2 separate regions of the Homo sapiens genome follow, and region 2 is linked to region 1. The links come from fine-mapping of genetic effects on gene expression. A gene starts in region 1. The other region holds a variant in brackets. All regions are shown on one strand. Distances are from middle to middle. Region 1 holds the start of PDLIM5 (PDZ and LIM domain 5). Region 2 overlaps PDLIM5 (PDZ and LIM domain 5).

Region 1 (5,379 bases):
CTTCTCATAAAGGGAAAATGGGGCAAAACATTCAAATAAGCCTGGTTTTTAAAGAAAAATTATATCAGGGAAAATAAAAATTACAGAAAATTGTATCAGAAACCGAAACAGCTTTTCTACTGGCGTGGTAGTATACTGAACTACAAGGCAATAACACATTACTTCAGTAATGAAGTAATAGGCACAGAGCACTAAAAAAGATCCAAAGGCCAAGCCGGAAGTCAAACTGTATATATAGGTGAAAAACTACTAGTGGGAAGCTAATAACGAGCCACACATAATTCAATTGCTTTCCCGCTATAAAAGGAGGAGATTTTCAGAAAACTAATAGAAGGACTGTCCTGATATTGACACGATACAAATCAGAATCGTGTAAAGCCAACTGATATTTCACAGGCAGCCTGCCCTCCTTTATTAATCTTTAACTTGTGTCTGGGGAATAATATGAAAGTTGGGCTCAACTTCCTCTGGCCCCATTCTTCCCTACAAGAAAATGTATTTCATTTAGATTATCAACCCATGTACTTGCAACTTCCCTTTACTTGGGGATTCCCTTCCTAACTTCTCTCATTTGTTATTAAAATTCCTAGCACTGGCAAGGTCACAGCCACACTACAAAACCAGTGTCATTTCATTTCTAGTCACTGTCCGTTCATTTCTAGATGCTTCTTCTGCTAGCTTCATTTGGAATTCATCTGCCTTAAAACAGTCTCTGCCCCAAGCAATGGCAATATTTTTATTGGCCTTTCCAAGACTCCTCCATCTGGTTATTAGTGCCCAAGCCCTTCCTCAAATACCAAGCAGGCAGGAAATAGCAGCATACTCTTTCAAACACGTCGAAAAGGTTGGAATTTCTGTAGAGTTATGGATTTTCTTTTAGGGAAAGTCTAAACAATGTCTTTGCTCTAGTACTAGGGAAGGAAGCTTGGTATTTCCCACACTTGTATCTCAGCTTCATTAGTGGGTGAGAGGGGAGAAAGGAGAACTCAAGATGAACTACACAGAGTGACAAAAAAAAAGGCCTGAAATTAAAGAGAAATATCTTGAGATTCTCTTTCCCCGCAATGGAGAGAGAATGTAGGTAGAGCTGAAGAACTAAAGCCACAGGCACAGGATGAAAGCAGCCGACAGGACAGTTTTCCAGGAGGGATTCGCGCCTAGCCTTGTTGGCCAAATAAGGCTACCGAACGGGCCGTTTCCGTGGCAGGCGGGTTCAGACGTCCTCCCCGTCAGGAAGGCGGACTTGGGATAGGATCTGGCGATCACACCCTAAATCTGCCCTGCCCAGCGCCGCCACGAATTTTCCTTCCAAGCTCTGCCCTGTCCACACGCCCTTCCTTTTTCCACTTATTGTAAAACGCACCGAAGGCACAGTCTTACAAAAGCCCCAACAAGTACTCAAGTGTTAACAAATCTCGTGTTCATGACAAATGTGTTTCTTAAACGAGCTTTATTTCTGGACGCGCAGAAGTTTTCCCCAAACAGGTTACACAAAACTGTAAATATCTGGGGGAGAAATAAATGCTTCTCAGTAGCCTGGGAGCAAAGAAAAACTAACGCGCCTTTTCCTTTGAGTCCCGCTTCCTACCCTCCAAGAGACTGGCGCAGGACTGGGCACTCAGACACCACACCACGGTGGTGCCGGGCGACGCCGGCAGCCGGGTGGGTGGGAGCGGCAGTGCCCGTCCCTGCCGGCCCTCGCCACCTCCGGGCGCCCTCCCGCGTCCCCGTCTCCGCTACGCTGGTCCCGGTCGGCCCGGGCTGCGGGGACCCCAGGGCTCGCCCTCTGGCCTCATGCGGACTCCAGCGCTGCCCTTTTCCGGGCGCTCCTTTTCCCAAGCTGCTCTCCCACCTCCGCCGCTCCGCGCCCAGAAAGCACCTGAGGAGCCATCCCTGCCCGAGGAGCGCCCCCTCCTCGTCCCCAACCGGGCTTCCCTTCTCGCGTTCGGCGCACAGCGGCCGGTTCTTTCCCTTCTCCCACCGGAGATCCGAGAGGCGCATCGCCGGCCGGCCGCCACTCACCTCGGGTCCGGCGCGGCGCGGGGCTGCCTCCGCCTCAGACAAGGGCTGACAAGTGACTCGCGGTGAGGGCGCCGTCCCCACCGCCCGCGGGAACTTCCGCCTCCTGGCTCTCCCTCGCCCCACCCCCGACCCAGGACACGCCCCTCCGCTCCCGGCCACGCCTCTGGGCCAGTCCCAGCCGCGCCGCGCAGGGGCGGGGAAGGTGGCGGCGGCGCCGGGCGCTCGGGCTTGCTGGGGCTGGCTGAAGCAGCTGCGGAAAGACAACTGCGCTACCGAGTTTCGGTGGGAGTAGTCTTAGCGGATTTTGAGCGCTACCTGGCAAAGGTCTAACCCTCCGCTCGTCCGTTTTGTAGTGGGTGCATTTTTCTCTCCAGAAATTTAAATTGGCAAGCAGTTGCTCTGCCTAAAAATAGAAGGGTACTTTGGATAAATCTCTATCTATGCAAGTTCAGCGGTTACTGCCTGCGTTTTTTTTTTTGAAAGAGCTTTACATGCTCTGAAAAGTGCAGACCCAGAAGTTTACCTGTCAGGAAGGTGAAAACCAGTAACCCTAACAGAAGTTAACCCTGTCCATCACACCAGAAGACAGTGATACATAAAAGCGGCCAAAAGTGATTCAACCACTGTATCTTCAGTTTATTTTTCTAAATCCAAATCAATAGTCCACTTTCCAGCCTTCTATAGGGTTGCTTGATACGCCCGAGGAATTTATTCATAAGAAAACGTGAATAATGTTCACTGAACATACGGAAAGTAACTAGACTGTTACACTGTGAATTGGCTTATAAAACGTGAAAAGGACAATTCTTAACCAAGGAGCATATAAAGCAAGGATGAACTTCATGAGGTCCGTGAGCTCCCCGGCCCCCAGAAGTGCAAGCAAAATTCCAAAGGCGAAGATCCAAAGCTGCTCTTTCCCTAACGGTAGCCACTGGCCACATGTGGCTATCGAACAGTTGAAATGTGGCTACTGTAACTGAGACCATGAATTTTTTGTTTTACGTAATTTTAAATAATTTAACATTTAAAACTGAAGCAGGATAACATTTCTTTACTTTTTTTTTCTTTGAGACGGATTCTTGCTCTGTCTCCCAGGCTGGGATCAGTGGTGCAATCTCGGCTCACTGCAACCTCCACCTCCCGGGTTCAAGCGATTCCCCTGCCTCAGCCTCCTGAGTAGCTGGGATTACAGGCGTGCGCCACCACGCCCGGCTAATTTTTTGTATTTTTAGTAGAGATGGGGTTTCACCATGTTGGCCAGCCTGATCTCGAACTCCTGACCTCAGGTGACCAACCCGCCTCGGCCCCGCAAAGTGCTGGGATTACGGGCATGAGCCACCGCGCCAGGTCGTTAACATTTCTTTTAAGCACTACATTTAAGGACTAAAGTTGAAAATATAATGCCCAAATTGAAATGCGTTGGAAGTGTAAAATGCACACTGGATTTCGACGACTTGGTATGAAAAAATAATGTAAAATGCCTCAATAATTTTTATATTGATTATATGCTGAAATCATCATATTTTATGTTTTGTTAAATGATACATGATTATGGCCGGGCGCGACGGCTCACGCCTATAATCCCAGCACTTTGGGAGGCTGAAGCGGGTGGGTCACCTGAGGTCAGTAGTTCAAGATCAGCCTGGCCAACATGGCGAAACCCCGTCTCTACTAAAAATACAAAAATTAGCCGGGTGTGGTGGCGCATGCCTGTTATCCCAGCTACTTGGGAGGCTGAGGCAGGAGAATCACTTGAACCCGGGAGGTAGAGGTTGCAGTGAGCCGAGACCATGCCACTGCCCTCCAGCCTGGGCGACAGAGCAAGACTCCGCACCAAAAAAAAAAGAGTAATAATAATAATATTTGATTAAAATTAATTTCACTTTTTAAAAAAAATGTGGCCACTAGATAATTTAAAATTACTTACGTGAGCAGGGTGCAGTGGCTGACACCTATAATCCTAGCACTTGGGAGGCTGAGGTGAGAAGATGGCTTGAGGGCAGGAGTTTGAGGTTAACCTAGGCAACATAGCAAGACCCATCTCTAAAAAAATCCAAAAAATTAGCTGGGCGTCGTGTAGTGTGCCTGTAGTCCCAGGTCCCAGCTATTTGTATTGCTGAGCCCAGAAGTTCGAGGCTGCAGTGAACTATGATCTTGTCTTTGCACTCCAGCCTGGGTGACAAAGGAAGACCCTGTTTCTAAAAAAATAAATAAATAAAATTACATATGTGCTTCACATTATATTTTCATTGGACAGCACCAGTCCATAGCTTTCACCACATTTTTCAAAAGATGGCTTTGGGGGAAAGTGTTTCCTAGTGTGAAAGCTGGTTTAGAGAGTCTAATATATGTTATCATGTTTGACATCTCACCCAAAAATAAAAAAAAAATAACAATAGCTACCATTAGCAAATACCTACCATGTGCTATGCAGTGTGGTAGTCCTTACAAGAACTTTATAAAATGAATGTCATCCTCATTTATAGATAATAGGTCGCAAGCAATTACAGCTTCTGCCAGTTCCACAGGGCCATGGCTCGAGTTAACCTCTAGGAGTCCCAACTCTGCCCCTTCTCATCTGTTTGCTGTTGATACAGTTAAATTGATCCTGGATCAACAAAGATTAATTTAAAGACATCAACTGCAGATAGCCTATGGAGTTATCACTAGAGGATAAGCTTCTTGAGGTGATGAGGAAGAGTTGAGAATGGGCAGACTGTTGCTTACTTATGCAAATTCCACTTTACCCCATAATTGCTAGCCTGTCTCTGAACCTCCTCCTACTACTGCAGTTTAAATCCTGGGCTACAGAGTAAATTAACCAAATTAAGTTGTCTTGCATAGACTGATATTTATCCAAGTGTCCTAAAAAGGACCGATTGCATCAAAATGACACGGATAGCTTGTTAAAATTGCATTTTCCTGGATCCCCTCTGGACTCAGAATCCTTGTAGGTGAGCCCTTGGAATCTTTTTAACAAACACTCCCTCCCCACCTCCAGGTAATTATTAAACTGCAGTGCTTAAAAACTACTTCCCTAGAGATAGTGCTATGTCTCCGGTTTAATGTGCACTGTGCTCAGTTAAGAACCATGCATTCCAGATGGTAGCAACTTATCTGTTTCCTCATCTTAAAGGAAATGATCATTGTAAATAACCTTGTGAGATTATCATGAGGAATAGAGATAATATATATAAAACATTACACAGCATGCTTCGCACCAAGTAAGGATTAAATAAATGGTAGCCATATGAAAACTTTCCTAACCAATTGATTAGATTTATTTGTGTATCATAAAAAACAAGTAGAGAACTTTGACTTTCATTATCCAAGTACTATGTTCTTGGTGCCCTATGT
Region 2 (5,379 bases), 170 kb before region 1:
GTACAACAGAAGCAAAAATTAACTATTCATTTTGAAAAGCAAGTTTGTGTTTTTTCCCGTTTCGTTTGATCAAAAGAAATTTATACTGTCCCCAAAAGACCTTCAAATGGTCACAACTTTTATATGTATAGCTTACTTGTATCATGCTTCTTCAAAACACAAAACAACTTATATTCTAAAAAAGAATCATAAACTTTTGTTTTTACATTCTTGTCAATTAAGAGCCTTTGTCTTTACTACATATCCAAACTGTCTCACAGAGAAAAGCAAATCACTAAGATAAAGCTTATATACATATCACCTAATTCACATAAAGGGAATGGTGCCTCAACAAGAGCATAGAGAAACTGTTATCTGTTCAATACGGACTATCAGAGGTTAAGAATGTCTAATATTGGCCGGGCGCAGTGGCTCACGTCTGTAATCCCAGCACTTTGGGAGGCCGAGGCGGGCAGATCACAAGGTCAGGAGATCGAGACCATCCTGGCTAACACGGTGAAACCCCGTCTCTACTAAAAATACAAAAACATTAGCCGGGCATGGTGGCGGGCGCCTGTAGTCCCAGCTACTTGGGGGGCTGAGGCAGGAGAATGGCGTGAACCTGGGAGGTGGAGCTTGCAGTGAGCCTAAATAGCGCCACTGCACTCCAGCCTGGGCAACACAGAGAGACTCTGTCTCAAAAAAAAAAAAAAAGTCTAATATTAAATGATAAAATACTACTGCCTTGAGTATATCGCCATAATATCATATCAACTAATATCAATATATGTTTTTATTTTCCTCAGTAGAATGCCTGCCTCCATGGACACGTTTAATAATATCCACTAATTTCTTGTCAACACCAGGGACATGAGAGTAAACAGGGCTCAACTGGGAGTTGTGTGTACACACAATTAAAGAAAGTATGAAGGTAGCATTCTAATATGCTATAAACTGAATACAATCCTCCACGGGTGTTTTAACAGAGGATACATAGGTACTCTATAGGGAGTCAAGTTCCCAGAGAGGGCAATGGTTAAAACCAGCAGCCCAGTTAGGTTAAAGTGTAAATACCCTGCAGTCACCCTGCCCAGGGAATTCTCTCCAAAACACTGCCACTGCCCAGGGCAATATTCATTATCTATCTCCAGATTGGATTACCTGAATAACTTCTTAAATGGTCTCCAGGTCTCCAACCTTAATCTCTACAATGAAGTCATGATGATCTTTTAAACACATTAATGCTATAATAATCTTTTAATAATGCAAGTCTGATTTTGCCACTTCCGGCTTATAAATGTTTTAATAGCTTCCTTTCAGCATCAAGTCCACACTCTTACATTCAAAACCCCCATTAATGCAGCCAACCTTCTCTCTGGGCCACTAGACAGTCTTAAACATACTGAACTACTTGTCTTTCCTACCCGAAGCCAAATTCTCTCAGTTTTTGCATATGTTGCTCCCTCTCCAAATCGGCCTCTTCCTAAAAATGTTCAAGGGTCGTTGACTACATGCTATTTTGTTTTAGGCACAAACATTAAAATATTGTTCCTGCATAAAATAGGACTTCACTATAAACAAATACATATTTTACCTCAAGATTGTATCCTCAGAACTTTAAGTCTTTTTCTTCCCTTTCCACTGATCCACACCTCCATGCCTCTGAACTGGGACTCATAGTTTGATTTGACTCTTCTTTGCACCTTTTTGATGATTTCTATATTATATACTGGTGTTTTGCATCCGAGCTAATTTGTCCACAATGACAAAATGGGCGATCCCACATTCCTAATATTTCCTCTGCATTCCACTGCTTGGTTCCTTATATGCAGTAAATTATCACATTTTTTTTAGATGGGGGTCTAGCTCTGTCACCCAGGTTGGAGTGCAGTGGCACAATCCTGGCTCACTGCAACCTCCGCCTCCCAGGCTCAAGAGATCTTCCCATCTCAGCCTCCCGAGCAGCTGGGACCATAGGCGTGCACCACCATGCCCAGCCAACTTCTTTTTTTTTTTTAATTTGTGGAGATGGGGGTCCCGCTATGTTGCCCAGGCTGGTCTCAAACCCCTGACCTCCAGCAATCCTCCTGCCTTAACTCCCACACTATTGGGATTACAGGTGTGAGCCACAGTGCCTAGCCCTCATACTTTTGAGAAAAAAAAATTCCTATCATGGGGCTTTACAACTGTTATTATTTTTTAATTTCCAAAAATAAATAATGTATTACTAGTTATGGTACTGCTCATGTTCACGATCTTAATTCTGAAGAGAGTTAAATGCTTCAAGAAGAGTGGAGCTCCCTTCTCCTTAGCAACATGCTTATTTTCTAATAGCAGCCTTTGGCAGACAGTGCTCCCACCTTTTCAATGACTGTTGTGGGAATTTCAAGTTTGGCAGGAGGACAGAACAATATCCTGGCAGATGAATTCTGCATCCTTCAGATCGTATGATGTCCTAAATAAGACAACTGACTTCTCTACCCACTCACTTTCTCGGGGACATTTACTGAGGGCCTATAAACTGTGCCAGGCATTGTTTAGATGCTGTAAAACAGATCAGTATGACTTGGTCCCTGTCCTCAAAGGAATCTAAAAACAGTCG[T/C]AAAAGACACCTATGTAAACAATTAAAATGAACAGGATGAATGCTATAACAAAGACATTATTGAAATTTTGTAGGAGTATTGAAAAAGAACAGGTAACAAGAGGGCTCAAGAAAGCTTCACAAAGGGGGAACAAGCTGGTCTTAAAAGGTAAAGAGAAGTTTGTCAGGAGTAGAAGGGATGGAAAAGCATTTCAAATAAAAGGAGCAGCTTGTACAAAGCAGAAAAGTGTGTGCCAAGGAATGATATGAACTCATGAACTTCAGTGTGAGTGGACTATAGGGAACAGTGTTATAAAATGAAGCTGGAGAAGAAGGTTGGCCTGAGATTGCAAGGGGACCAAAAATTCTGTTAAGAAGCTAAGCATTTTGACCAGCAGCAGACAGCCCCAAACATTTTCAAGCAGGGACATCACATGAGAACCAGTTTTTGGACAGTAACAATGTAAGTTATTAATGCCATCAAGAAAAGGAATAAAGGCATAGAAAGTTAACCTCTGAGTATCCTCTAAGTATCTGCAGCCTAGTTATATCATTTGATTTCACAAGAATGCTATAGGAGAAGCTTTTAAGGTCTTTATTTTAATAGTTAAAGAAATGGAGGCCGGGCGTGGTGGCTTATGCCTGTAATCCCAGCACTTTGGGAGGCCGGGGTGGGTGGGTCACGAGGTCAGGAGATTGAGACCATCCTGGCCAACATGGTGAAACCCCGTCTCTATTAAAAATACAAAAATTAGCTGGGTGTGGTGGCAGGCACCTGTAGTCCCAGCTACTCAGGAGGCTAAGGCAGGAGAATCACTTGAACCTGGGAGGTGGAGGTTGCAGTGAGCCGAGATTGTGCCACTGTACTCCAGCCTGGGCGACAGAGTGAGGGAGGAAGGGAAGGAAGGAGGGAAAGGTGAGAAGGAGGGAGGGAGGGAGAGAGGGAGGGAAGGAGGGAGGGAGAGAGGGAAAAGGCTCACAAAAATGCTAACCTTCTGAAATTCATACCTGCAAAGGGCAGGCATTTCTATTTTGGGGGGCCACCACCAGTCAGAAAACTGGCTCAATGAACAACGGGTCCAGATCTATCAAAGCATTGCTTATATTCTAATGAATTATTCATTCTCATTTTGTATATGATTAAACTAAAATTAGAAAACTGATGTGTTCCAACACAGAAAGGCTCTTCATGACTTTATGACTGAATTTGTGAAAAACATTTCATTACATTTGTAAGATAGTAATATTTTATACATACATTTGTATCTAATGAACTAAATTTACCTAAGCTGCTATCCATAATTTAAACAGGAACGCATAAACACATGATGAATCCGCTATCACCTTCTAAATCAAAAGACTTTTTCATTTGCATCAGGAAGCTTTTGAAACTATTTATCTAAGACTAAGAGTACATTCTGAGATGATTTTGTTGTTGTTATTGTCTTTAAACTATGGTATACCATTGTGTAGGGCAGAAGAATTTGAGTGGCTGGGAATTTTGTTTTTATTTTTAAATTTTCCAAAATAGTACAAAATAAGTTAACTTTGCCACAACGTAATAACTGAATAAATGCCTGTTTATAGCACCTGGAGCAAGATAAATAAGAACTCAGTAAATATTTTCAAAATTGAGCTAAGAATTATGATGTAATTCAACTGTGACTTCACAACAGGAAAACATTCTTTTTATAATTTTGTTTTATAATGTTATATAATGTATAATGTTTTATATTGTAGTTTTGCTCATATAAAATTCATTTATATTTTCTAGAAAAAGCATAATGTTTTAAACACTAACCATGTGACTCATTATTATAATTGCTAATATTGGCCTACTTTGATTATTCTCACAAATTTCATTAGACTTGGAGAAAGCACTCCATCGCCCTCTTGTGGTAATTTTGCTGTACTATATTCGCCAAGAGTTCAAAAAAATGAACTTTTTCTTTCCACTTAAAAGGCAGAGCAGTACTTTAACCATAAACTTCTGAACTTCCAAAGGCCGTATATAAACTTTCTGTCCTCCACTGTCCATATACTTTGTGCCTTCTCTTCGGTTTCTACCTCAGAAATTTAGTCTTTTCGTTGCTTTTTACAAAACATTCTCCTGTTAGCTTCCAATTACCATACCAATAGCATTTTTCTGAAAATTACTTTCTGTATTCAAATGCACAAAGTAATTACAGAAAATCTTCATCATCATACATAGGCTTTAAATAAATAGAAATAACTCAAAAATGTATGGGGCTGAGCTTAGCATTTTTTCCCCAAAAGAATAGATCATGGTAAGTCAGTTAATAGTCCAGAAATTTCAGAGACTAATAATATTAGACTAAGTGTTTTTTAGTAGTCCAGAAATTTCAGAGACTAATAACATTAGACTAAATGTTTTAAGTTTTTAGAAGTAATGAAAGTCTTTCCTCTAAAATAGTCTAACTCATATGCCATGGCCTGTCCTCTTTCCAACACAATAGAAATACTTCTAGCTTTTTTTTTTTTTTTTTTTTTTTTTTTTGAGACAGAGTCTCACTCTGCCACCCAGGCTGGAGTGTAGTGGCACCATCTTGGCTCACTGCAACCTTCGCCTCCTGGGTTCAAGTGATTCTCCTGCCTCAGCCTCCTGAGTAGCTAGGACTATAGGTGCCCACCACCACGCCTGGCTAACTTTTCTTTTATTTTTAGTAGAGACAGGGTTTTACCCATCAGGTGATCTTGATCTCCAGGATGGTCTCGATCTCCTGACCTCGTGATCCGCCCGCCTCAGCCTCCCAAAGTGCTGGGATTATAGGCGTGAGTCACTGTGCCCAGCCACTTCT

What was found. PIP is the estimated chance that this variant, and not a neighbour inherited with it, causes the effect.
Region 2: its variant is fine-mapped to the expression of PDLIM5 in whole blood (INTERVAL, PIP 0.98).

Annotation. Positions count from the first base shown.
Region 1 is chr4:94,448,639-94,454,017 of GRCh38, reverse strand. PDLIM5 (PDZ and LIM domain 5) reads right to left here and starts at 2,076. Exons shown (of 13, transcript NM_006457.5): 1 at 2,023-2,076. RefSeq lists silencers at 1,577-1,836, 2,007-2,426.
Region 2 is chr4:94,620,770-94,626,148 of GRCh38, reverse strand. All of the region lies in intron 8 of PDLIM5 (PDZ and LIM domain 5), which reads right to left. Among named protein-coding and RNA genes, the nearest start is that of BMPR1B-DT, 130 kb to the left of the region's middle. The variant T/C (reference allele first, on the strand shown) is at 2,582.